Homo sapiens: one gene and its partner. The protein of the gene in region 2 interacts with the protein of the main gene of each other region in a pairwise test. Each region holds a gene or a part of one and is shown on either strand. Other genes may lie near its edges. The genes, in order: DERA and ALDH16A1.

Evidence for each region.
Region 1: the proteins of ALDH16A1 (region 2) and DERA interact in binary tests that used the Homo sapiens proteins (3 or more experiments, as listed by UniProt).

What each region holds. Positions count from the first base shown.
Region 1 is NC_000012.12:15,951,077-15,967,056, forward strand, and holds part of DERA (deoxyribose-phosphate aldolase), read left to right. Parts: intron 1-5,859; coding exon 5,860-5,957; intron 5,958-7,111; coding exon 7,112-7,259; intron 7,260-8,752; coding exon 8,753-8,848; intron 8,849-11,736; coding exon 11,737-11,871; intron 11,872-15,980. UniProt on the Homo sapiens protein: Catalyzes a reversible aldol reaction between acetaldehyde and D-glyceraldehyde 3-phosphate to generate 2-deoxy-D-ribose 5-phosphate. Participates in stress granule (SG) assembly.
Region 2 is NC_000019.10:49,448,302-49,456,444, reverse strand, and holds the start of ALDH16A1 (aldehyde dehydrogenase family 16 member A1), read right to left. Parts: upstream 3,221-8,143; 5' UTR 3,114-3,220; coding exon 3,024-3,113; intron 1,532-3,023; exon of another isoform or gene 1,511-1,531; coding exon of another isoform or gene 1,508-1,510; intron 1-1,507. Other genes in the region: PIH1D1 (PIH1 domain-containing protein 1), read left to right, coding at 4,871-4,960, 5,597-5,663, 6,791-6,970.

The DNA of each region.
Region 1 (15,980 bases), on a different chromosome or scaffold from region 2:
AGGAATTCTGGGTCCTGTGTACCTTGAGCATGGACTAGAGGGGAATGTTGGCCCAGGGACAGTCTGTGCCCTTGGCCCCACAGACCCCTGCCCATGGGTAGGAGCACAGCTATGGGTGGGCCAGAGCAGGCTCTAAGTAGAGTGTGGGCCCATCTCATCCCTTTGTAATGTTGGCATCATGTAGGAGCAATATAATTATCAGTTTCTACCTGGGGGCCTGTGGTGAAGATTTTGGTGATCTTTTCTATGGGAACAGAAACAGGGCATTCTGACATCATCATTTCTGCCTGACATTGTGTAGCTGTATCAGGCTGGCTTTCTGGAATAGCTCAGTGGCCAAAGATTGATCACGAAGGGTTTAGAGCTGTGAAAATGCCCCAGGTAGGTGTTGTATAATGCTGGTGCCTGGACCACAGACAGCTGCCTTACTGGTTTACCTACTGTAGTCTGCCTTTCATTCTACCTGTCCTTCACACTGCTGCCTGGCAGTTCCTCTTAATTCAAGAGTCAAGTATTATTATGTGTTATATTTCCTGCTCAATAAGATAATGCATGCTCTTTGTAAGAATGTTTAAATATTAGGGGAATATATAACGTGAGAAAGTAGGAATATAATCTTACCTCTGAAGAAAAACACTTCTATCAATTTGGCATATAGTTTATTTTCTTTGCACATACACCAACAGATACATGTTTTGTGTTCTTTTTGTTTTTATTAACAGTTTTATTTTAAAAAGCACACTGCTGTGCATATTTCTTATTTTTACTGAGTAATGTATCATAATCAGTTTTCTACAACAGTACTTACTGATGTACCTCGTTCTTTTTTTTTTTCTTTTTTTTGAGACGGAGTCTTGCTCTGTTGCCCAGGCTAGAGTACAGTGGCGCAATCTCAGCTCACTGCAACCTCCGCCTCCCAGGTTCAAGCGATTCTTCTGCCTCAGTCCCCTGACTACTGAGACTACAGGCTTGCACCACCATGCCCAGCTAATTTTTGTGCTTTTAGTGGAGACAGGGTTTCACCATATTGACCAGGCTGGTCTCGAACTCCTGACCTCGTGATCCGCCTGCCTCGGCCTCCCAAAGTGCTGGGATTACAGGCGTGAGCCACTGCACCTGGCCTGTACTTCATTCTTTTTAATGGCTGAATTGTATTCTGTTTTTTGGATTTGCTATATATTATTGAACTGGACATGGATCTTGGTGTCATTTCCAACAGTGCTGCCACACATACGTTTTCATGTTTGCATTTGCAAACTTATGTACGTATTTCCATGGGACATATTCTGTGTACTGATTACTTTTTTAAAATACTCCTTTAATTCTGTTACAGCCCTGTTTGGAGATCTTCTCTGACTTCTGGTCACCTGTATCATAAAGTCTAGACTAGAGCCTAGAGCCAATAGAAACATAATGTGAGACATGGAGTCATTTTAAATTTTCAAGTGTACACATTATAAAAAAAATAAAAAGGAACAGGTGAAAATATTTTAATAGCATTTTACTTAGCCAAGTGTACCCCAAATATTATAATTTCATTGTGAAATCAATGTTAAAACGTAATTAGATATTTTACACCCTTCTTTTTGTACTGAATCTTTGAAATCTATGTATTTTACACTTAAAGCACATTTCGATTTGGACTATCCACATTTCAAGGGCTCAGGTAGGCACAAGTGTGTGGCTCCTGATTGGACAGCGCATGTCTACACTCAGCCTGGTGCTTACAGCACTTTACAAGTAAGCCATAGTCAGTCAAACAAGCCACATTCAGTCACATTTAGCCAACCTGCTTTTGCTTCTGACAGCCCCACAAACTTGCAGTGCTTCCGGTTTATTTTTCCTGCATCCTGCCCAGTTTTTTGGGCAGGGTTTCTCAGCTTTGGCACTGTTGAAGTTTGGGACCACATAATTCTAAGTTGTGGGTGCCTTGTAGGATACTGAGCAGTATCCTTGGCCTCTACCCACTAGATACAAGTGGCACCTTCTCCTCTAGAATCCCCCTACCCCATCTGTGGTGACCAAAAATGTCTCTAGACTGAGAAACAATGCTTTACGGTGAATCAGAAATCTCCACTTATCCATTAGGGTTGTTTTAGCCAACTGGATAAGCCTACTGTGACCTACCCTTCCTCTGAACTTGACTTTTTATCCAGCCAGTGTGGTAAGTTTTTATTTTTGTGTATGAGGAACAAAGTTAAAATCAAAATAGAAAAAGCGCCTCCTTTTGTAGGGTTATCATTTGGTGTTACATGCTTTAGGAATACTGTGAAAAATACAGGAACTTCTGCAGAAACACAAATGAAAATGATGGAAAGTCTAGAAAGTAAAGTTGCAGGGAAAATGACCTCCATCTCCACTACGACTTGAACCAGAAATAATAATAATAATAAATTGTGAGAAGAGTATTTGAGGACAAATTTATAACCAACACAAGGGCCTAAAAACCACCAAAATGACATATTAAGGTAAATAGTGGGACTTTTTTCATTGGAGAATTTTAAGAGAAGATATCATTGCCTTCCAATTATGGTTTCATATCTGTTCTCCCCAAAGGCATGTGTACTTAAAACCCCTCTTGGCCCCATAAGAAGATTCTTTGGTCCTGATGAGATTATGTGCATTAGAATCACTTCTCCTGGAAAGGAGACGCTAAAGGGTACTTGAATAAAATATTAAAAATTATGGAGGACATAACAAAGGCCAATCAGTCCTTTCTTTTCCCCAGACCCCATAATAGGAGAACATGGGTTATTTGATGAAATTAAAGAGTAGCAAATTAAGTGCTAATAAAACGAGATAGTCACTTACATAATTCATTGCCATGGGAGGTCACAGAGGCAAATTTTGTGGCTACATTAAATATGGGGCTGGATAATTTTATGACCGCTAATGATATTTTTAGCAGTCAAGGCTGATACTGTGAGAGAAGAAATCCTATTACATTCTCCAGTAGATGGTTTGCAGGGACCTCTGGCAAGAGGTTTCTGAGAAGTGCAAGAGCAGACCTTGTGAGTTCTAACCTTTGGTGTACTCAAAATTGGTTTTTAAGGGGAAAGTTCCCAGGCATCCCATTCATACCTCAGTCCCATATTTTCTTGTAGAGATCCAAAAGCCCTTTCTAGTCTGAAGCAGTGGAGAAAGACATTGCCCAGAATTAAATCCTTTCTGGTCTTTGGGAACCACTCGACTTATTTATCGTATGCCACCCGTGCGTCAGGTCCTTCGCTTGGAGTTTTAAAAAATCTTTTGGGGACATAAACATTTGGACACATCAGTGGCATTCTGAGTGAAGGGGATGTACTAAAGGTGGAATGCAGAGTTTCATGGAAGCACGAAGAAGCAAAGGGATGTCTCAACCTGTGAGGTTCAGGGAAGGCTCCCAGAGAAGGTGACATTTGAATCGACTCTTAAAGGATGAGCAGCAGTTCACTGTTCGCAAAGCAGGGAGGGCATTCTTGGTAGAAGGAGCTTGCAGCATGCACAGATCCAGAGACAGCCTGGCATAATGTGTCAGGGAACTGCCAGTAGTTTAGGAAGGCTGCACCACAGAGGCAGAGGAGCAGTGAGGGAGGAGCTGGGGCTTGAGAATGAGGAAGGAGCCAGATGGTGAAGGAAGAGGCTTGTGTTTGCCTGAGACCCCTCTCCAACAGTGGTGCCAGTGTTTCCAGTGGCGACAGTAGTGGTAGTGGTGCGTTGGGAGTAGAGAATGGGAAGGACTTCAGGGGTGTCCTGTGACCGATAAAGGACAGCCTGTCAAAGCCTTGCCCCACTGAGTAATAGGCCTACCTCTTTTTGATCACGGTCAACAATTAGTTGGCAGTGAGTCTTGGAGTTCACATACTCTTCACTCATTTTTCTATATCTGCTTGAAACAGTCTTTACCATGAACCAAATCAGCATTATCAATCATCTGAGGAGAAAAAAAAAAAGCCTCTTAGGGCTGGGTGCAGTGGCTCATGCCTGTAATCCCAGCACTTTAGGAGGGCGAGGCAGGTAGATCACTTGAGGTCGGGAGTTCGATACCAGCCTGGCCAACATGGTGAAACCCTGTCTCTATTAAAAATACAAAAATTAGCCTGGCGTGGTGGCGCACGCCTGTAGCCCTGGCTCCTTGGGAGGCTGAGGCATGAGTTCGTTTGAACCCGGGAGGTGGAGGTTGCAGTGAGCCAAGATCGTACCACTGCATTCCAGCCTGGGCGACAGAGAGACTGTGTCTGAAAAAAAAAAAAAAGAGGCTCCCCTGCGTTTGAGTAGGGGGTGTTTCTTACAGGTCTTAGATAAATTGGGACGAAGTCTAGAGTGTCTGGTCTGATTTTCTCGGGCTCTGCTAGAACAAAAACAGCCCTTGAGTGGGAAAGCAGAGGCAGATTTCATCGGCCTGACCCCAGACTCCCATTTTCTCTGTGAAGTTGGCTCAGCAAACAAGCAAGAAAACATACAATATCTTTGAGGAGCAGGAGCAGATGGATTGAAATGTTAAAAATCTGGTTTGTTAAATGATTTCAGCTAACAAAATAATTAGAGAGAAAAAGAAGCACCCAAACTCTCTTCCTTCTTCAGTGAAATTTAAATAAGATCATTATTAATCACTCAGAGTCCACCTTGCAATCTCTATACCTTTAATACTGATACTTTTAAGAAGAATGAAATGAAAATGAGTGAGAGAAAGAATGTCATCTGTAAACATTAGTTTAGATGCAAATACTTCAATTTGTATTGTTACATGATACAGTATGTGATTAGCAGTTTTCCTCATTGCATTATAAAGAGTTTTGTAATTAGTGCATTTTTTCTAATGGATAACTTTTTTTCCACAGTACTCTTTTAAGGCTCTTTTAAAAACATGGAATTGCTGGAGAGATATAGAAGTGAGGTTAGTTATAGAAGGTAAATAATGTTCATGTCCGATTTACCGTGAGGCCACCTATGTTTATAGGATATTGGTGGATGAAGTTGAAATATGTGTACCAAACACTGTTGGATGTTAGACACCCAAAGATGAGTAACATCATGGCTGACAATGTACTAAGTACAACGAATGGTTTCACCAGGAATCCTTGATGAATTGATTACAAGTTCTGTGGTAGAGATCTATCCAAATGTTAGCTCTGTCTGGGGAGCTGACAGTGTTTTCACAACAGCTAATATTTAGACTAGGTCTGAAGGTAGAAATTACAGTTAACTGGAAGAGAAGAGAGAGTAGATCAAGGTAGGAGAGAGCATTTCAGAACAAAAGCAACAGAGATAGCTCCTGAAACTTTAAATAATTTGTTTTTTCTTTTTTTCTAACTTCTGTTATATCAGTCAATGTTGTTATTTCTAATACATTTTGAAAAATTTTTCTTTGAAGAAAGAATGGGCTGTATCCTGTCAGCATGCAGTAGGTATTAATCTTGCCAGTAAGCGGGTAGTGAGCACAGATTCTGTAAGCCCCACCATTAGTTCACTTAAGATTTGTTAATCATTTGCTCTCCTGGGCTGGACACTCACCAGTAAGTCTTTGCTCTCAGAGGTGAGGTACGTGGCATGGGTAACACACATTTCCCACGTCGTTAGACATGTCTGTGTGATGAATCAATACAGGTTCTTCCAGTTCCAAATGTATAGGCTGGTACAGAAGCAATTGTGGTTTTTGCCTTTGAAAGTAATGGAGTGATTTTGCATGAAGTATGCCTTTTGTTGACTGGTCTTCCATCAATAAGGTTGTTTATTTATAGTTGTACAAAAAAGAAATATAAGCTTTAAAAAAAGGTTGATGTCAAATGATAAATGTATCCTTTCAAGGACCATGTAAAAATAGGTGACTATATTTAATGAAACTTTAGGTTTCAGAAAGTGTTTTTCTGTCTGTTTTAGACCTTAGCTGGATCTCCAAAATACAAGTGAATCACCCGGCAGTTCTGAGGCGTGCGGAACAAATCCAGGCTCGCAGAACCGTGAAAAAGGAGTGGCAGGTAAGGGTTCTTCTTGAGCATTCTGTGCCTGTATTTTACAATGCATGGTCTCTTCCCTCAAGGCCACAATATTGAATTTCACTCAAGATGCATCTAAACTTAAAAGATTGCAGCTGTCCATGACTTATTTTAATAATTCATATATGATGATGATGGGTTGGAGAAAGATAACACATTTATCCAAACAAGTTAAAATCTTATCACTCTTGAGTGGCAAAACCGCAAATGAATTTGAGGCATCTTTATTCATGAGTGAATTAAATGGCATATTTTCTCAACACATTTATTCAGTTTTTTAGACATGCCTTCTTTGGTTGTCTTCTGTTTTAATTTTAAAGCCCTAACATCTAAACTTGATGTGTCCACTGTTGAGGCCCTTAGGTATAAGAGTTGACCTTTCTTGACCATCATATTTACCTTACTATTACTTTCTATAAATCATTTTTCAAAATTCCAAAAATGATGTTTCGTAGAGTACTTGCGGTCAGCATTTTCTTCAGTGTATCCCAACCAAAGACGTGCTGTGTAGGATTAAAGGGAATTCAGAGTTCATTTCACAAGTGAGACAGAATACTGTGATTGAATCCTTGAGAGTGATAGTTCACGTTTTGCTCATCCTTAGAAATATTCTGGTTGAAAAGGTAAAATAAAATTCATCAGACTGAGTTGTGAAATATGAATATTGTTTTAAAAATGGAATTGGATTAAATTGAAAAAACACCAAAAAACTTGGAAACTTTTAAAAATGATAATCTCATCCCAGATCCCAGAGCGGGAGGTAAAATGTAAGGTAGAAACCTTCTTTCGGAGTTCTTCTTTGTCAGGGTGGCTCTGATGGGCTCTCCCTTTGGCTGAGATGGAGTAGTCAGAAGTGGGGAGACATGGGCTAATAGGGGTTTCAATTTGGGATATCTGTGGGAGAAAAAAAATGTTTAAGCCTACTCTTCCTCCCTTTTATTTTGGGCAGTGTTCACCTTGTTAGTGGCTCTTGAGCTGTGTTTATATCATGTATCAGGATATTCCATTGAACAGTGTAGGCATAAGATATTAACACCCATACTTGTCTAATGATTCTCTACTAACCACCTGGGTTGGAGGTTGGTTGGTTTGTTTATTTATTAAATTTACTTTGTTTTCACTTTTGTTTAAACCAGGCTGCTTGGCTCCTGAAAGCTGTTACCTTTATAGATCTTACTACACTTTCAGGTGATGATACATCTTCCAACATTCAAAGGCTCTGTTATAAAGCCAAATACCCAATCCGGGAAGATCTCTTAAAAGCTTTAAATATGCATGATAAAGGTAATGTTGTTGTGTGTGATCTATGTGGTGTTTAGTGCTTACAATACTGATTACTAAATCAAAGACGACTTAAGATACAGCTGCTAATGATAGCGGTGATAGAATCCATGATAGAAACTCTTGCTGTGTATACATAGACAGATTCTTCTCTGAAAAACAGCAGGAAGAGAATCTGAGTCTTTTTTTTTTTTTTTTTTTGAGGTCAGTTCTTTCCATCAATGGATTAAAATGCTTGGTAGAGAGTGACTTTATTTCTTTTCAGTTCTTCAGTTTTGGAAAATTTCTGTTTAGTGACACTGAAATACTCTTTCTGATTCCCTAGCCATACGTGAAAAAGCCAGTCTCATTACTTAATAATCACATCTCATACATAAAGTATTTTCTGTGAGTATATGAAATACTTTTGAAAATAAAGTGCAAATGAGAAATATAGCCTGCTTATATATTAGGTTAGATCTTTCAAAAAAAGTCATATTCACTGCCTTAGTATACATGAAAAGAAGGACTTTTCTAGAGTTGCCATAAGTTTAGAACCTTAGCATTTTGGAGATGTTGGACACCTGTAAGAATTGATTCCCTTGTTTTCTAAATAAAGAAACAAAGACCTGGAAGGCTAAGCGGCATTCCCAAGGCTACACGTCTTGTTACTTGCTGGGCTGGTTTTGGGAGCCAGGTCTCCTTCCCATGGAGTATGCTTCATGGCCCCCGAGTGCCTATCTGCTGTGAGTGCAACTGGAGACGTTGAATTGGCCCAATGCAGGTCTTTTATCCCAAATAAACACGTTTAGGTTTGTAGGTAACATACAAACCTAAACAACTCTACGGCTTTTGAAAAGTATTTATTATGTTTATTTCGTGTTGGCCATAAAAATATCACCTTATTTATTGCACTTAAAGGTAACAACTTGATGTAAGGTCTTATGATATTGCTTTGTTTTATAGTGACTATTTGAATTCTAAATTTTTTAAAATTTATGAACTTATTTCTTAAAATCAGGGCTTCCGTTTCAGATTTTATTATTTCTTGCAAAAGAGGGAATAGGATTAGTTAAATGTCATTTTTGTGGTACCACCCTCTAAATTGTACTTATATTTGTCTTCATCTGTCCTTCTTCAAACTGTCCTTTCTTCAGGTATGTCCTATGTGAATGCTCTGTAAATATGGATTTTGTTATCTACATGAAATATTTGCATTTAGTAATGATCACCAAATTTACTATTTAGACATTTTTAAAAAACAGTACTATGTTAATCTCAAAGATGAGTATATCAAACTTGTTTTTATGACTTTAACGATAAGAAAATAATCCATATTGTCAAGAACTAGAAGGGAATGTGGAAAATAAAAATCTTTTAATTTATTGCAGTATTGTGGGGGAATTATTTTTTTCTCATTTGATTTTTGCCAGTGTTGCGATATAAATAATAATTAAAAGCATGTTGTATGAGTTGAACTTCATTGAAAGTTGGCTATTCCTATTTTTTCTTGATAGGCATTACTACAGCCGCCGTTTGTGTTTATCCCGCCCGGGTGTGTGATGCTGTAAAAGCACTCAAGGCTGCAGGCTGTAATATCCCTGTGGCATCAGGTAAAATGTGTTGTGGCTTTTGTTGTTATTTTTTAAACATGTTTCCAGTTCTTCATACAATGGGGTATTATATGTAGGTTTGTACTATGATTTAAATTAGTTTATGTATTTAATTAGTTGTATTTATTCATGATTTTAGTATGTACTAATTGCTTAGTAAGTGGAAGACATTTATTCCCAACAATATAGAACTGTATTCCTATCCTTAAAGAAACTCAGTTTAGGAGGAATAGTCAGGTAAAGAAAAAAGTCATAAGGCATGACATATAGTATATATATATATACACACACACACACACACATATACATACTATATATGTATATGTATATATACATATTAACTATATATATAACTATATACATACTAACACACACATGTATGCATGTTCTGTTATACATATATATGTAAAATATAATAATAATGATATGCGGGCTGGGGACGGTGGCTCACAACTATAATCCCAGCACTTTGGGAGGCCGAAGCAGGTGGATCACTTGAGGTCAGGAGTACGAGACCAGCCTGGCCAACATGGCAAAACCCCATCTCTACTAAAAATACAAAAATTAGCCAGGCATGGTGGCAGGTGCCTGTAATCCCAGCTGCTGGGAGGCTGAGGCTGGAGAATCGTTTGAACCTGGGAGGCAGAGGTTGCAGTGAGCTGAGATCATGCCCCTGCACTCCAGCTTGGGTGATAGACCAAGACTCCGTCTCAAAAAAAAAAAAAAAAAAAAAAAAAAACAACGATATGTGCAAAATGTGTAGTTGCGGTTCTGAGCAGGGAATGATATATTCTGCAGAGGTTGGTGACACCAAAGTAAGAGAAAGCATCGTCGTGGAGATAATTGCATTGGATCTTAAAGGATGAGGAGGAGTTCACAGTGTTAATAAGGTAGGGAACCACATGTTAGACAGAGGCACTAGCACGTGTGAAGGCACAAAGCATGTTCAGGGAACTGGAAAAGGTTTGCTGTTGTTGACTACAAAGGCAGGGCTCTGAAGACAGGGCAAAGGGGGAGATACAGGAGTTGAAGCTAGAGAGGGAGATCAGGGCAGAATTGCAGAGGGGATCCATGCCATGTGGGGGCATTTGGCCTGTATTCTGATGATAGGGAAGACACTGAAAGGTTAGAGGCGTGACGTGATCAGCTTCATGGCATAGTAAGTTACCTGATGGTACTGGATAAATTAGAAAAGGAGTGAAATGGAGTTAGGGGAGACTTGTCACAGTACATGCAGGACCTGATAAAAGCCACACAAAACCTAGAAGATAAAGGAGAGAGTGCATTCAGAAGTCACTGACTTCAGATAGACACGGTAGGACTTGGTATGACAGAAAAGTCTTTAAAACATTAGTTTGGTAAATGTGTATCTGTGTGTATATGGATGGATGAATAGACAGATATAAAATTAGATTCTAGTTTTAAGAGATGTTAGAGGAATATCCTGATGCTTTAAAAAGGGAGTCTAGGCCAGGCATGGTGGCTCACATCTGTGATCCCAACACTTTGGGGGGGCTCAGGCGAGAGGATTGATTAAAGCCAGAAGTTTGAGACCAGTGTGGGCAACAAAGATCTCTACAAAAAAATAAAATAAGTAAAAATTTAAAAGGAGTTTATAAAGGTCATTAGCTTATTAGGAATATATTAAAAGAAACATGGTGCACAGTATTTATATAGAATTGATTTATGAGGATTCCTGAAGTATTTGGCAGCTACACTTGTATAGACCTTAATTTTTCATCAGCCTCAGTCAGTTCAGTTTTTGCTTTAAACAACAGAGAAACATGCTTTCCTCTAAGGTAACAGACCTAAGGAATTTTTTTAATTTTTATTTTTTGAGACAGAGTCTCGCTCTATCACCCAGGCTGGAGTGCAGTGGCGCGATCTCGGCTCACTGCAGCCTCCGCCTCCTGAGTTCAAGCAGTTCTCCTGCCTCAGCCTCCCAAGTAGCTAGGGCTACAGGTGTGCACCACCACACCAGGCTAATTTTTATACTTTTAGTAGAGATGGGGTTTCACCATGTTGACCAGGCTAGTCTCAACCTCTTCACCTCGGATGATCCGCTAGCCTTGACCTCCCAAAATGTTGGGATTACAGGCAAGAGCCACTGTGCCCAGCCCCAAGGAATTTAATATCAAGGTAACATGACAGGTTTTTTTAGAAACAGGGATGGAGAGTTAATGATGTGCATGTAAAAGATGTTACTATTTTTCAAGAGTGTAGTTGTGTTTTGTGTTTTCATTTTCCTCTTATTTACACTTGGCTCTGCTCTTCCCAACCCTGCCCCTGCCTCAATTTGGTGGACTAATTAGGTGTGTTTTCCTCCTGCATTCTCTTTTCTTTATGCTCATCTGCCAGGCTGGTTGTTTTTAACATAGGCAGTGGGAGGAACACATAGGACAGTTTGTTTACCACAGCTAAAGAGGTTCATGAGAGAATTAATCAAGATAAATCAAGGGTAAATGAGTAAATCAAGATAGCTAACTTGATCAAGATTTGGACCCAGAACTAGTGTGCTAGATAACTAGTGTTCATTAAGATAGGGCTACCACTACTATTTTATGGCTATCACTGTGAAGATAAAACATCTTTGCTGGTTACTTAATCCACCTTCATGAGCATCTCTGCAGCATCTTAATTTCAGGTCTTCCAGAAAATGATATTTGTCCTAACACTAATATGAGAGAACATTCAATTTCTTCACACTTATGCATAAGTGATGTTCTTAAGTGTCAGTGCATTGGTCTTTAAATGCTGATGTTTGGGGGTTTGGAATTCTTTGATGAACTACTACTGACCAATTGAAATTTGTTTTCCCCTCCCCCCCTTGCTTACTTTCTTTCTTCCCTCCTTCCCTCTTTCTTCATTTCCTTTCTTAACTCTATTAGTGGCCGCTGGATTTCCAGCTGGACAGACTCATTTGAAGACACGATTAGAAGAGATCAGATTGGCTGTGGAAGATGGAGCTACAGAAATCGACGTGGTAATTAACAGAAGCTTGGTGCTGACAGGCCAGTGGGAAGGTAGGTGCATGCTTTTACCTAAGAGAGTTTCACCATTCTTCCCTGGTGAATCAGATGATGAGGTAAGATGTGGTATGTTTTAGAGGTCACTGTTCTAGGTGACAAGTTAGTAGATCAAATGGTGAGTTTAGGAGAAAGCAGGCTAAGATTACCCATCCTTGTGCCCCTCATAAATCTAGGCAGTTGCCTACCTACATGAACTTTTCAGATCCTTTTGAGTGCTTAGGTGAATAGTTACTTCCATGCAATAGATTCATAACTTTTAAAACAATTTTATTTTACCAACATGCTTTTTCTTCAGAAGGGAAAAGTTACTACTATTCTATACTGTTTTGTTACTCAATACATACTTCACTCCAGGCAAGTCTTTTATGCAAAGTTTATTTGAATATATTGGAGGAAACTTCCCTTTTTTATGTTAATTTTTGCAGTCTTTAAAGGTATGGGATTATTAAGTTGACTAAGTTTATTTTTACTTCTAGCATTCTTAGACACAGCTCTGATGACTATCATGAAATTAATGATTCACTATCACGTCAGCATACACTAAGACATTGCCCTTTCCAGCAACAAGCTTTTGTTTTTTTAAACAGATATTAAAGAATCAAATAGATTTTACCTCTGTCTTAAATATATTTTGTGTACTAAAGATGAGGTCATTGGTAGCTAGAAAAGTAAAATTCTCTTTCAAAAAAGTCATTATAATAAATAGTTTAACCAAAAATTTTTAATGAAATCACAAGTTAAAGCCAGGATAGTATATTGTCTCTTTATATATCAAATAAATGGCATATTTTATACTAATTATGGAGGCTATTCCCACACTCCTTTAAAGTTTAAATAAGAGATAGGATTTTATCTCTTATTTAACCTGCTTATTGGACTTGCCTATTTCTCATGGGTATTTTCCTGTGACTGTTTCTATCCATCTGTATCTGTAAAGCCTATGTCTATTTGTGAAGCCTAATTCCATTGATTGTCAATTATGAATTGCTTTTGGTTATGAAGTAGCAAATGTTCAGTCAGTGGTTTAAACCCTCAGTATTTATTCTCTTATATAAAGTCCAGGGGTAGGTATTTCAGGGGTGTGTGGCAGCTCCACAAAGTTCTTGGAGACCCGGGCTACGTTTATATTCCAGTTCCAAAGCATGTGGCTTCTGCTGTTAATGTCAAGGGCACTTCATTGTCTGAGATGGCTTCTGAAGCTCCAGCACCTTACACTCATCTCCAAGACCATAGGAAAGAAAGGCTTTTCTCATCAAGTCTCACACAACACCTTTGTTTATTACACCTTTGCCCGTTGGCCTGAGCTGAGTGACGTGGCCATTCTTGGCTGCAAGTAAGCTGGAAAATAGAGTTTTTAGCTTGGAATATTAACTACTTTCCTGTACATTCCCATTTCCATTGCGTTCACCCCACTGCCCCCCAAGTTCCCCATTAATACTCATCAACATTTATAATTCTTGCCAGGTTTAAACTCTTGACAGTTCACAAATATCTTTTTGTATTTTGTGTTCCTTTTTTGTGATTGTTCATGTGTGTGTTTTAGCCAATTACAGTCATTCTGAAAAGGCGTATTTTAAATAGATATCTCTGTTCCTATATATTAATTTTGCTTATCTGCTTTTAGTCACGGATTTCACTAAGATTTAAGGCTAGAGTAAAATGAAAAAGTGAGTAAGCGTAGTATTTAAAACAAATCTGGCAATAAACTTTATGTGATTTAGTTGTATACAAACCTATATGTCCTTTATATCTTAAGCAATTGTAGATGTAGAAATTGGGTTTATATTATAACTTACACCTTTTATTAAGCAGTTGTGGATATAGAAATATGGTTTATATTATGCTACTAATTGGAAAATAAAATACAATAGGAGATGGGTTTTGATGTAGCTGACTGCCCCTTAATGAACTAGGAATGGTTGTTTTTAAGAACTGATAATTTCCCAATAACAGGCGTTTATGCAAAATGTAATGACAGATCTTTGTCCTGGACCATACTTTTATATTAACTCTTTTTCTAGTGTTAATAACCTCTTGACCCAAACAAATTGAAAAGGAACATTTAATACTAGAAATTTAATTCTAAATAGAAACCTGAAATGACTTAGGACTTTTTGCTGCAATATTTTGTCTTAATTTTGATTCTCAATTTGATTACATATTGTATTTTTCAGTGTCATGTTTTAATATTAGCTGTTTATTAAAATATGAGCATAAAATAATTTCTTGGAATTTGTGGATGGAAATGTCTATCAAGCAATTGCAGTTTTAAATCCAGGGCCCTCTCCCTTGTGCAGTGAGGTTTGTAGGATATTTGGTAAAGCACAATAGAAAGAACCCCATTTTATTTTTTAAGTTCTGGGGTACATGTGCAGAATGTGCAGGTTTGTTGCATAGGTAAACGTGTGCCATGGTGGTTTGCTGCACCTATCAACCCATCACCTAGGTAGGTATTAAGTGCCTCATGCATTAGCTATTTTCCCTAATGCACTACCTGCCTCCACCCTCCCCCAACAGGCCCCACTGTGTGTTGTTCCCCTCCCTGTGTCCATGTGTTCTCATTAAGAGCCCCATTTTTTAAACCTGGCCCTTCAGAGTGGTCTTAACCATTTCTCATGGATGTGAGAGTCCACAGTTTAGGGTATGAATTCGAGGAGACTGGAGTTTGGGGGTGGGGGAGGTTTGATATTCCTCTCTGGGTTCTCCTTAGTGACCATTTAAAATGTCCACTTTCCTGAAATTTCTAACTTTTCCACCCTCCTTGAAGCTCCTTCACTGTTAGCATATGAACTGCCTCCTACTTCTCAGAGAAAATAAAATCATCAGACAGGAGCTCCCTCCAGGTCCTTGCATCAGGGCTGCTTTTCTTTGCTTCTTCCTTTGCTCCTTCCTCCTAAATTCCTTCCCTCGACTGTGCTGTGGCTCTCATCTCCCCCTGCATTTTCAGAAGCCCTGCTCTATCTATTGGGCATTCTTTCTTCCGTGTCATCAGCCTTTCTGCCAGCTCATTCCCATTAAGCATTTAGACATACTCAAGCTTTTCTTAGCCATTTATGAAAGAACCTACATGCTGGCTTTCCTTTTCCTTCATCCCCAGCAACGTCCTCCTTTCTTCTCTTCCCTTCATGACTAAAATTCTGAAAAGAAGGCCCGATGCGGTGGCTCACACCTGTAATCCCAGCACTTTGGGAGGCTGAAACAGGCACTTTGGGAGGCCTCATCACCTCTTGCTCTGCTGCCGCCCTAAGCTCTGGTTCCGCAGCAACGCTCTGGAGTGAGGCGTCCTCCTCACTTGAGGTTGGGAGTTTGAGACCAGCCTGGCCAACATGGCAAAACCCTATCTCTACTAAATATACAAAGATTCGTTGGGCATGGTGGCACATGCCTGTAATCCCAGCTACTCTGGAGGCTGAGGTGAGCGAATTGCTTGAACCTGGGAGGCAGAGGTTGCAGGGAGCCAAGATTGCGCCACTGCACTGCAACCTGAGGGACAGAGTGAGATTCCCTCTCAAAAAAAAAAAAAAGAATTCTGCAAAGAGTTATATTTATTTGTTTGTCTTGAGAAGTTCAAACTAATATACTAATGACCTGTCATCTCATTATGTCCAGGGCATACTCCCCAGTTGTTTATTCAGCATTACCATGCAACATATGACACAGCAGACTGTTCCTTCCTTCTGGTAATGCTTTGTTGTTGTGGCTTTGGTGCCTACATTCCTGAGGTCTTCCTTTCTGTTTCTGATTACCCCTGCGTCTCATTTGCAAGCTCCTTCACCTCCTCTGTCATCCCTGAAGTGTCCATGTTTCTCAGAATCTGAGAACTGTGGTTCTCAGATTCTGTCCCAGTGTGACTTTTCCACAACCTTGGTGTGCTTTCCTTTGGAAACGTCATGTCCTTGCTGATTTCAGTTACATTCCTTATGGCAAAGACAACCAAACCTCCTGAGCACCAGGACCACCTGGACCCGGGGCCACCTGCTCCAGAACTCGTATTCCGTTGTATCACTACACCATGTTGCATTTTACCCATCATTTACATATAAGTAGACATTCAAATATCACTGACCCTTGACAAAATCAGAGAAATATAGCTATTTTGGAAA
Region 2 (8,143 bases):
ACTGAATGCTAGCCTGGGCGACAGAGTAAGATCCTGTCTCAAACAAACAAACAAAAAACAAAAAGAATGACTTAATGTTAAGTGTGGTAACAGACCATGGTAGTTTTGTAACAAAATGAGCCCTTATCTGTTAGAAGAAAGGATTCAAATATTTATAGGAAAATACTGTGACATCCAGGATTTGTTTAAATTACTCCAAAGAAAATACAGAAGGAAACAGCGCTGGGATAAATGTTGATGATGGTTGAGGCACAGTGATGGGTAAACAGGAGTTCAAAATAAATGCTAATTATTCTGTGCAAGTTGGAAAGCTTCCCCCCAAAAGAAAAACAAAATTCCAAAAGAATGTCCAGAGGGTTCCAGGAGGCCTGAGAAGAGGGCCTGGATGAGAAGAGGAGCTTAACGATTCATGGAAAAGACAGGAGCTATTGGTCCCAGATGACTTTTGTCAGGGAAGTTGAGCCAAATGTTGACACATTTTGGAATTTTATTTTCAAGAGGACCTCCCGGATGTTTACATGGAATCAATTGTCCAGCATTTCACATAAAAAAAAAATAAAGTTCACGCCAAAGAAAACATGTTTGTTGGTTGAGTCTGGCCCAGAGACTGTACGGTTGAGAACTTTGCTGGTGTAGGCAAGACCACGGGTCTGAAATGCAAGGACTCAAGTCCAAGTCTCAACTTCACTTTTTATGTTTTATTTTTATATTAATAGAGATAGGGCCTCACCATGTTGCCCAGGCTGGTCTCAAACTCCTAGGTGCGAGTGATCCTCCTGCCTCGGTCTCCCAAACTGCTGGGATTACAGGTGTGAGCCACTTGCCTGGCCTCAACTTCTTTTTTTTTCAGGGGGGACAGGGTCTTATTCTGTCACCCAGGCTGGAGTTCAGTGGTATGATCACTGCACCTCCCAGGCTCAGGTGATCCTCCCACCTCAGCCTCCCGGGTAGCTGGGACTACAGGTGTGTGCTGCCATCCTCGGCTAATCTTTTGTTTTCTGTTTCCTTTTTTTTTTTTTTTTTTTTTTGAGATGGAGTTTTGCTCTTGTTGCCCAGGCTGGAGTGCAGTGGCGTGGTCTCGGCTCACTGCAATCTCCACCTCCTGGGTTCAAGCGATTCTCCTGCCCCAGCCTCCCAAGTAGCTGGGATTACAGGTGCCTGCCACCACGCCCAGCTAATTTTTTGTATTTTTAGTAGAGATGGGTTTCACCATCTTGGCCAGGCTGGTCTCGATCTCCTGACCTCATGATCCGCCCGCCTCGGCCTCCCAAAGCGCTGGGATTACAGGTGTGAACCACTGCGCCCAGCCATTTTTGTATTTTTTTTGGAGACAGCGTCTTGCTCCGTTGCCCAGGCTGGAGTGCAGTGGTGCAATCTCAGCTTACTGCAACCTCTGCCTCCTGGATTCAAGCAATTCTCCCACCTCAGCCTCCCAAGTAGCTAGGATTACAGGCAAACACCACCACGCTCAGGTAATTTTTGTATTTTAGTAGAGATGGGGTTTCACCATGTTGGCCAGGCTGGTCTCGAACTCCTGACCTCAGGTGATCCGCCCACCTAGGACTCCCAAAGTGCTGGGATTACAAGTCTGAGCCACCACGCCTGGCCCAATGTTTTGTATTTTAGTAGAGACGAGGTTTCACTATGTTGCCCAGGCTGGTCTCGAATTCCTGAGCTCAGGCGATCTGCCCGTCTTGGCCTCCCCAAGTTCTAGGCTGTGCCAGGGTTCTGATCCAGTTCCTTCCACTTGGATCATTGCTCTGGCCTCCTGCCCTCCCCCTCAAAGAAGCCTAAGCTCCTTTCGCCTGGGTGCTGGGGGACCCTGGGGGATCATGAGAGCCCCGTGAAGGAATTCTGAGAGTGCCTGGGGAAACGACAGAAAGTTTGAGGTGCCCTACTCATTTGCAGGAACCCCACGAGGGTTCTGGGGGCCTCTGAGGGGTCATGGGAGTCCTAGGGAGGTTCTGAGGACCCCCAGGGGATCATGGGACCCTCACGAGGACTTCAGGGGTTCCTGAACAATCATGGGAACCCTATGGGACATTCTGAGAGCTAGAGAGATCATAGGAGCCCCGTGAGGGTATTGTGAGGGGCCATAAGTAATTACAGGAAGTCCTGATGTGGCTGGGTGCAGTAGCTCACGCCTGTAATCCCAGCACTTTGGGAAGTCGAGGTGGGTGGATCACTTGAGGCCAGGAGTTCGAGACCAGCCTGGCCAACATGCTGAAACCTTGTCTCTAGAAAAAGTACAAATATTAGCTGAGAGTGGTGGCGCGCGTCTCTGGTCCCAGTTACTTGGGGGGCTGAGGTGAGAGGATGGCTTGAGCCCAGGAGGTTGAGGCTGCAGTGGTGTGATAGCGCCAGTGCACTTCAGTTTGGGCGACAGAGTGAGACCCTGGCTCAAAAAAAAAAACAAAAAAAAAACCCAACCCAAACCGGAAGTCCTGATGTATTCTAGGCTCCTGAGAGTTCCGATGAGGTCACATGAACCCCACGAGTATTGAGGGGTCCTATGGGATCACGGGGGCTCCATGGAAGTTCTGAAGGTCTCTGGGTAATCAAAGGGATGAAGGGAGTCCCTCAGGAGGTCTGGGGTGCTCTGGAGGCCCATGGAAGCCATAGGATGTTTTGAAGAGTCGTGGAAAGACAATGGGGGTTGTGGGTCACTGGAGCCTCACAGGAATCCTAAGGGGTCTGGTGGGTGGCGTCAGGTTCTGAGGGGACCCTGAGGAATCACGAGAGCGTCTAGAGGAGTTCAGGAAAACCGCGGAAACACTACGAGGAGTTCAGGATCAAGGGGCAAGAGAACCAGTGGGGAAGACCGGAACAGACTAAAAGGCTGCCACCGCCAAGGCTCAAGGGAGCGTCCTACAGGGCGCGATCCTATTGGGCGGCGGGAATCACGGGGACTAAGAGAGGCGGAGCGGCTGAGCTACCGCAGTGGATGACGGGACTCCCCGCGAAAAACCGGGCGCCCAGGCCTGGGGAACGCAGCGAGCAGCGCCGGCCGGGCAGACTCTCACCAGTGCGCATGCGTGGCTCTCCGGCACCGGTCCGTACTCCAGCGAGGTGAAGATCTCGCGGGCGCGGGGCCCTGCACGCGTCGCAGCCATCGCCTACCCCGAACGCTTTCCGCGAAGACTGCGGGGCGCTCTGTGTTAAGGGGAACCTTGAGGTCCGAAGAGCGACACCTCCGGTTCCAGCCCAAAGGGGCGGGGCTAATGGGAATGGGGTGGGGCTACAAGATACAGAGAGCAGCCACGCCCACACTTTTTCCTTAGGACCCGATGGCCCCGCCTACGTCCCCCACGGGGAAGCGTATTTAGGAGCATGCGCACTGCTTAAAACGGGGAGGAAGGGGAGACGGCGATGTGGGTACTTTGCGAATAGTTAGGAGGGCTCCGGATTTATGAGGATCGGCGTGGCCGGGCACGATGGCTCTTGGCTGTAATCCCAGCACTTCGGGAGGCCGAGGCGGGCGGATCACCTAAGGTCGGGAGTTCGAGACCAGCCTGACCAATTTGGTGAAACCCCGTCTCTACTAAAAATACAAGCATTAGCCGAGCTGTGGTGGTGCGCGCCTGTAATCTCAGCTACTCAAGAGGCTGAGGCGGGAGAATCACTTGAACCCAGAAGGTGTACGTTTCAGTGAGCCGAGATCGCGCCACTGCACTCCAGCCTGGGTGGCAAAGGGAGACTGTGTCTAAAAAAAAAATAGTAATAAAAAAAAAGGGTCGTCCTATTGATGCGTCTTCCCAGTGCCTTGTTTTATAGTAGCAGGAAGTGCAGGTTTTGTTTTACCTTTTATTTTCTTGAGACAGGGTCTCCCTCTGTCGCCCAGGGCTGGAGTGCAGTGGTCCGATCACGGCTTACTGTCGCCTCGACTTTTCAGGTTTAAACATTACTCCTGCGTCAGCCTGCACAGTAGCTGGGACTACAGGCAGGTGCCATCAAGCCTGGCTAATTTTTTTTTTTTTTTTTTTTTTGGTAGAGACAGGATCTTGCTATGTTGCTCAGGCTGGTCTCGAACTCCTGGGCTCAAGCGATCCTCCTACCTCGGCCTCCCAGCCTCAAAGTGCAGCTTTTCTAATTATATTGACTAGAGGTCTAGATCTAGATCTAGACCTGGCGGGTCTAGATCTGGACGTATTAGGATCTAGAGCTGGCAGGAAGTGATAATTCAAAGATAAAAAGGGTACCTTTTAGGATGGACATTGAGATTAAGGTTTGGAAAATGCAACCTTCACTGCAAAGTAAGGGGGCCAGTTTTGGTTGTGGAAAGAGTGGAAGTCTGGCGCTTTTTTTTTTTTTTTAAGAGATGGGGTGTGGGACGTTATCTCATTGTATTGCCCAAGCTGGTTTCGAACTCCTGGCCTCAAGCGATCCTCTTGCCCTGGCCTTCCAAAGTGCTGGGACTACCGGTAGGAGCCACAGCGCCCAGCCGGAAGTGTGGCTTTCATAGATACAGGAAGTGTGGCACTCAGGGATCCGCCTTGGGGTTTATTTTTGATTGATGCGAGGGGCGTGGCTTGTCGATAACGCGATACCAGCTTGTGAATGAACACTGGGGTACTCGGAAGTGTGGCATACTCCAGTCCTGTGTTTACCGATAGACCGGAAGTGTGGCTTCGTTTACAGTTCGGCACGTAGGACGGAGGGTAGTGCGTCTAGAGACACATATTCCCCACGGATTTGACGATGGTGTTCGGTCTTGAATGGAAATGTAGTCTTAGGCCAGTCTTAGGTTTTTGAACAGGATAGTAGGTATCCGGAGTCGATTGAGGGCCAGAGCAGGCACTGGGGTTCGGATCCTGGGCAAAGTTTCCCACGTTGAGGGTCTCGAGGACGCCTAGATCTCTTTCCCAGGGCCATGGCGAACCCGAAGCTGCTGGGAATGGGGCTAAGCGAGGCGGAGGCGATCGGTGCTGATTCGGCGCGATTTGAGGAGCTGCTGCTGCAGGTGCAGTGACCGGACCCCTGGATCCTTGAGTATTCGGGGATTTTGGCGGGGTGCTCAAAGATGGGACTGCAGTTCCCAGAATGCACTAAGGCGGGAACCAGGCCTCGGGGAATTGAGGTTAATGGGCTTCAAGTTTGCTAAGAAATGGGAGTGGGGGGCCGGGCGCGGTGGCTCACACCTGTAATCCCACCACTTTGGGAGGCCGAGGCGGGCGGATCACGAGGTCAGGAGATCGAGACCATCCTGGCTAACACGGTGAAACCCCGTCTCTACTAAAAATACAAAAAATTAGCCGGGCGTGGTGGCGGGCACCTGTAGTCCTAGCTACTGGAGAGGCTGAGGCAGGAGAATGGCGTGAACCCGGGAGGCGAAGCTTGCAATGAGCCGAGACCTCGGCACTGCACTCCAGCCTGGGCGACAGAGTGAGACTCCGTCTCCAAAAAAAAAAAAAAAAAAAAAGAAATGGGAATGGGGTTGGGGTTGTTCTTCTAGTTCTCAAAGGAGAAAGGGGACCTAAACCGTCTAATTTCTCGCGTTATCCACAGCTCTCATGCATAAGAATTGCTCCATTTGAGGAACAAATGAGGGGTCTGATGGCACAGACTCCGAGCCTGGAGGTAGTTTTCCTTTATACAGGCCTCGAAGGAGCTCCAGCAAGCCCAGACAACCAGACCAGAATCGACACAAATCCAGCCTCAGCCTGGTGAGAAAGGACACCGGAGAGAGAGGGACAGGAGACCCAGGGAGAGGACAGAGAGAGGAGGAAGGAAAGAGACACGAAAATAAAGGCCTAGGGTGGGGGTGGGGTGAGCAGACACCCACAGAGATCATCCTAGGACAGAAAGGAGTTGGAGGACAGAGTAGGAGTAGGTAGGGGGCCAGAGAATCAGAGATAGGAAGAGGCCAGGTGCGGTGGCACGTGCCTGTAGTCCCAGCTACTGGGGAGGCTGAGACAGGAGAATTGCTGGAACCCAAGAGGCAGAAGTTGCAGTGGGTGGAGATCGCACCACTGTACTGCAGCCTGGGTGACAGAGCGAGACTCTGTCTCAAAAACAAAACGAAACAAACAACAACAACAAAGATAGGAAGAGAGGCTGGGCACAGTGGCTCACATCTGTAATTCCATCACTTTGGGAGGCCGAGGTGGAAGGATTGCTTGAGGCCAGGCATTCAAGACCAGCCTGTGCAACATAGTGAGACCTCATCTCTACTAAAAATAAACAAAATTAGCTGGACTTGGTGGGTGCGTGCCTGTAGTCATAGCTACTCACGAGGCTGAGGTGGGAGGCTCACTTGAGCCAGGTGGAAGAGACTGCGGTGAGCCAAGATCGTACCACTGCACTCCAACCTGGGTGACACAGTGAGACCCTGTCTCAAAAAACAAACAAGGAGAAAACAAAGAAGAGAGGGGGCCGGGAGCCCAGCACTTTGGGAGGCCAAGGCGGGAGGATCACCTGAGGGCAGGAGTTTGAGATCAGCCTGGCCAACATGGTGAAACTCCATCTCTACTAAAAATACGAAAATTAGCCGGGCGTGGTGGTGGGCGCCTATAATCCCAGCTACTTGGGAGGCTGAGGCATGAGAATTGCTTGAACCTGGGAGGTGGAGGTTGCAGTGAGCCGAGATCACGCCACTGCACTCCAGCCTGGGTGACAGAGTGAGAGTCTGTCTCAAAAAAAAAAAAAAAAAAGAGAAGTGAGGGATCTCGGGTGGGGAGTGGAACAAAAAAGGGGGACAGGGCAAAAGGAAAAGAGACAGAGCCTGGAGACAATGGATGGGGACTGGGACTTGTGCAGAAAAGGATTGTCATGACTAACCCACTCCCACCAGGTTTCTGCATAAAGACCAACTCCTCGGAAGGGAAGGTTTTCATCAACATCTGCCACTCCCCCTCTATCCCTCCTCCCGCCGACGTGACCGAGGAGGAGCTGCTTCAGATGCTAGAGGAGGACCAAGCTGGGTTTCGCATCCCCATGAGTCTGGGAGAGCCTCATGCAGAACTGGATGCAAGTCAGTGCCCTCAGAGGACCCAGGAGTCTGGCCCGCTAGGCCCCTTCTTCCCTAGAACCCAAGAATCCTGGGCCCAGGACCCTCCTCCCTCAGCTCCTGGAGATCTGGCCCCTCGATCTGATTCTTTTCCCTATGGTAGATCTCTAGTGCCCTGGACATCCCACACCCGGGCAGTCCTGGTTCTGCCACCTGGCCAGGCTGGCACTTTTCCATGCCCCACTCCAGGGCCGGGAGGCCTGGGCAGAGTGCTCTTCGTGCATTAGCGGATCTCCTGGCTTTAGTCCTGAGCCTGCTGTCTCCTTCTTTTTTCTTTCTTTCTTTTTTTTTTTCTTGTGATGGAGTTTCGCTCTTGTTGCCCAGGTTCAGACGATTCTCCTGTCTCAGGCTCCCAAGCAGCTGGGATTACAGGTGTGCTCCACCACACCCAGCTAATTTTTGTATTTTTAATAGAGACGGGGTTTCGCCACGTTGGCCTGGCTGGTCTCAGACTCCTGACCTCAGGTGATCCACCGCCTCAGCCTCCGAAAGTGCTGGGATTACAGGTGTGAGCCACTGCACCCAGCCTGCGGCTCTCTCTTTCATCCTGTTTTCTCCTCTGCCCTTCTCCCTTTCTCCATCTCTGTCTTGCCTCACCTCTGTCCCTGTTTCTGCCTCTATATCCTTTTTTCAATATGTCTCTTGAAGCTTTCTGGGACCAAGCTCTAGGCAGTGCCCCGGGGAATAAGGACCTATGAAATGCACATTCCACGTTCCAGAAACTCGCTGTCATGGGTGGGGCTCAAGGAGATGGATGCAGTATCAATAGGGTGTGATTCACGCTGCTTTGGAGGGGGGCACCCAGCACAGCCTTGAGAGGGCTCGTCACCCACATGAAGGGGTCAGGGAAGGCTTCCTGGAGGAGGGGGTGTGGGATAAGATTTGAAGGAACAGGAGGAGTTCAGCAGGCAGACAGAAGAAGGTTCTAGGTAGAGCGGCCCAGAGCTGGGAGAGAATGATTGGATTGGATCAGCCAGTAATGGAGAGTGACTGAAAGAAATTCAGTGGGCCGAGGTTGCTAGAAGAATGAGGTCTTCTCCAGAGGTGGGAGGGGCAGACCACATAGGGTCTCCAACGCCAGGCTTGTGGGGCTCAGACCTTCACTTGGGAGCACTGGGGAGCCAGAGAAGAGCTGTG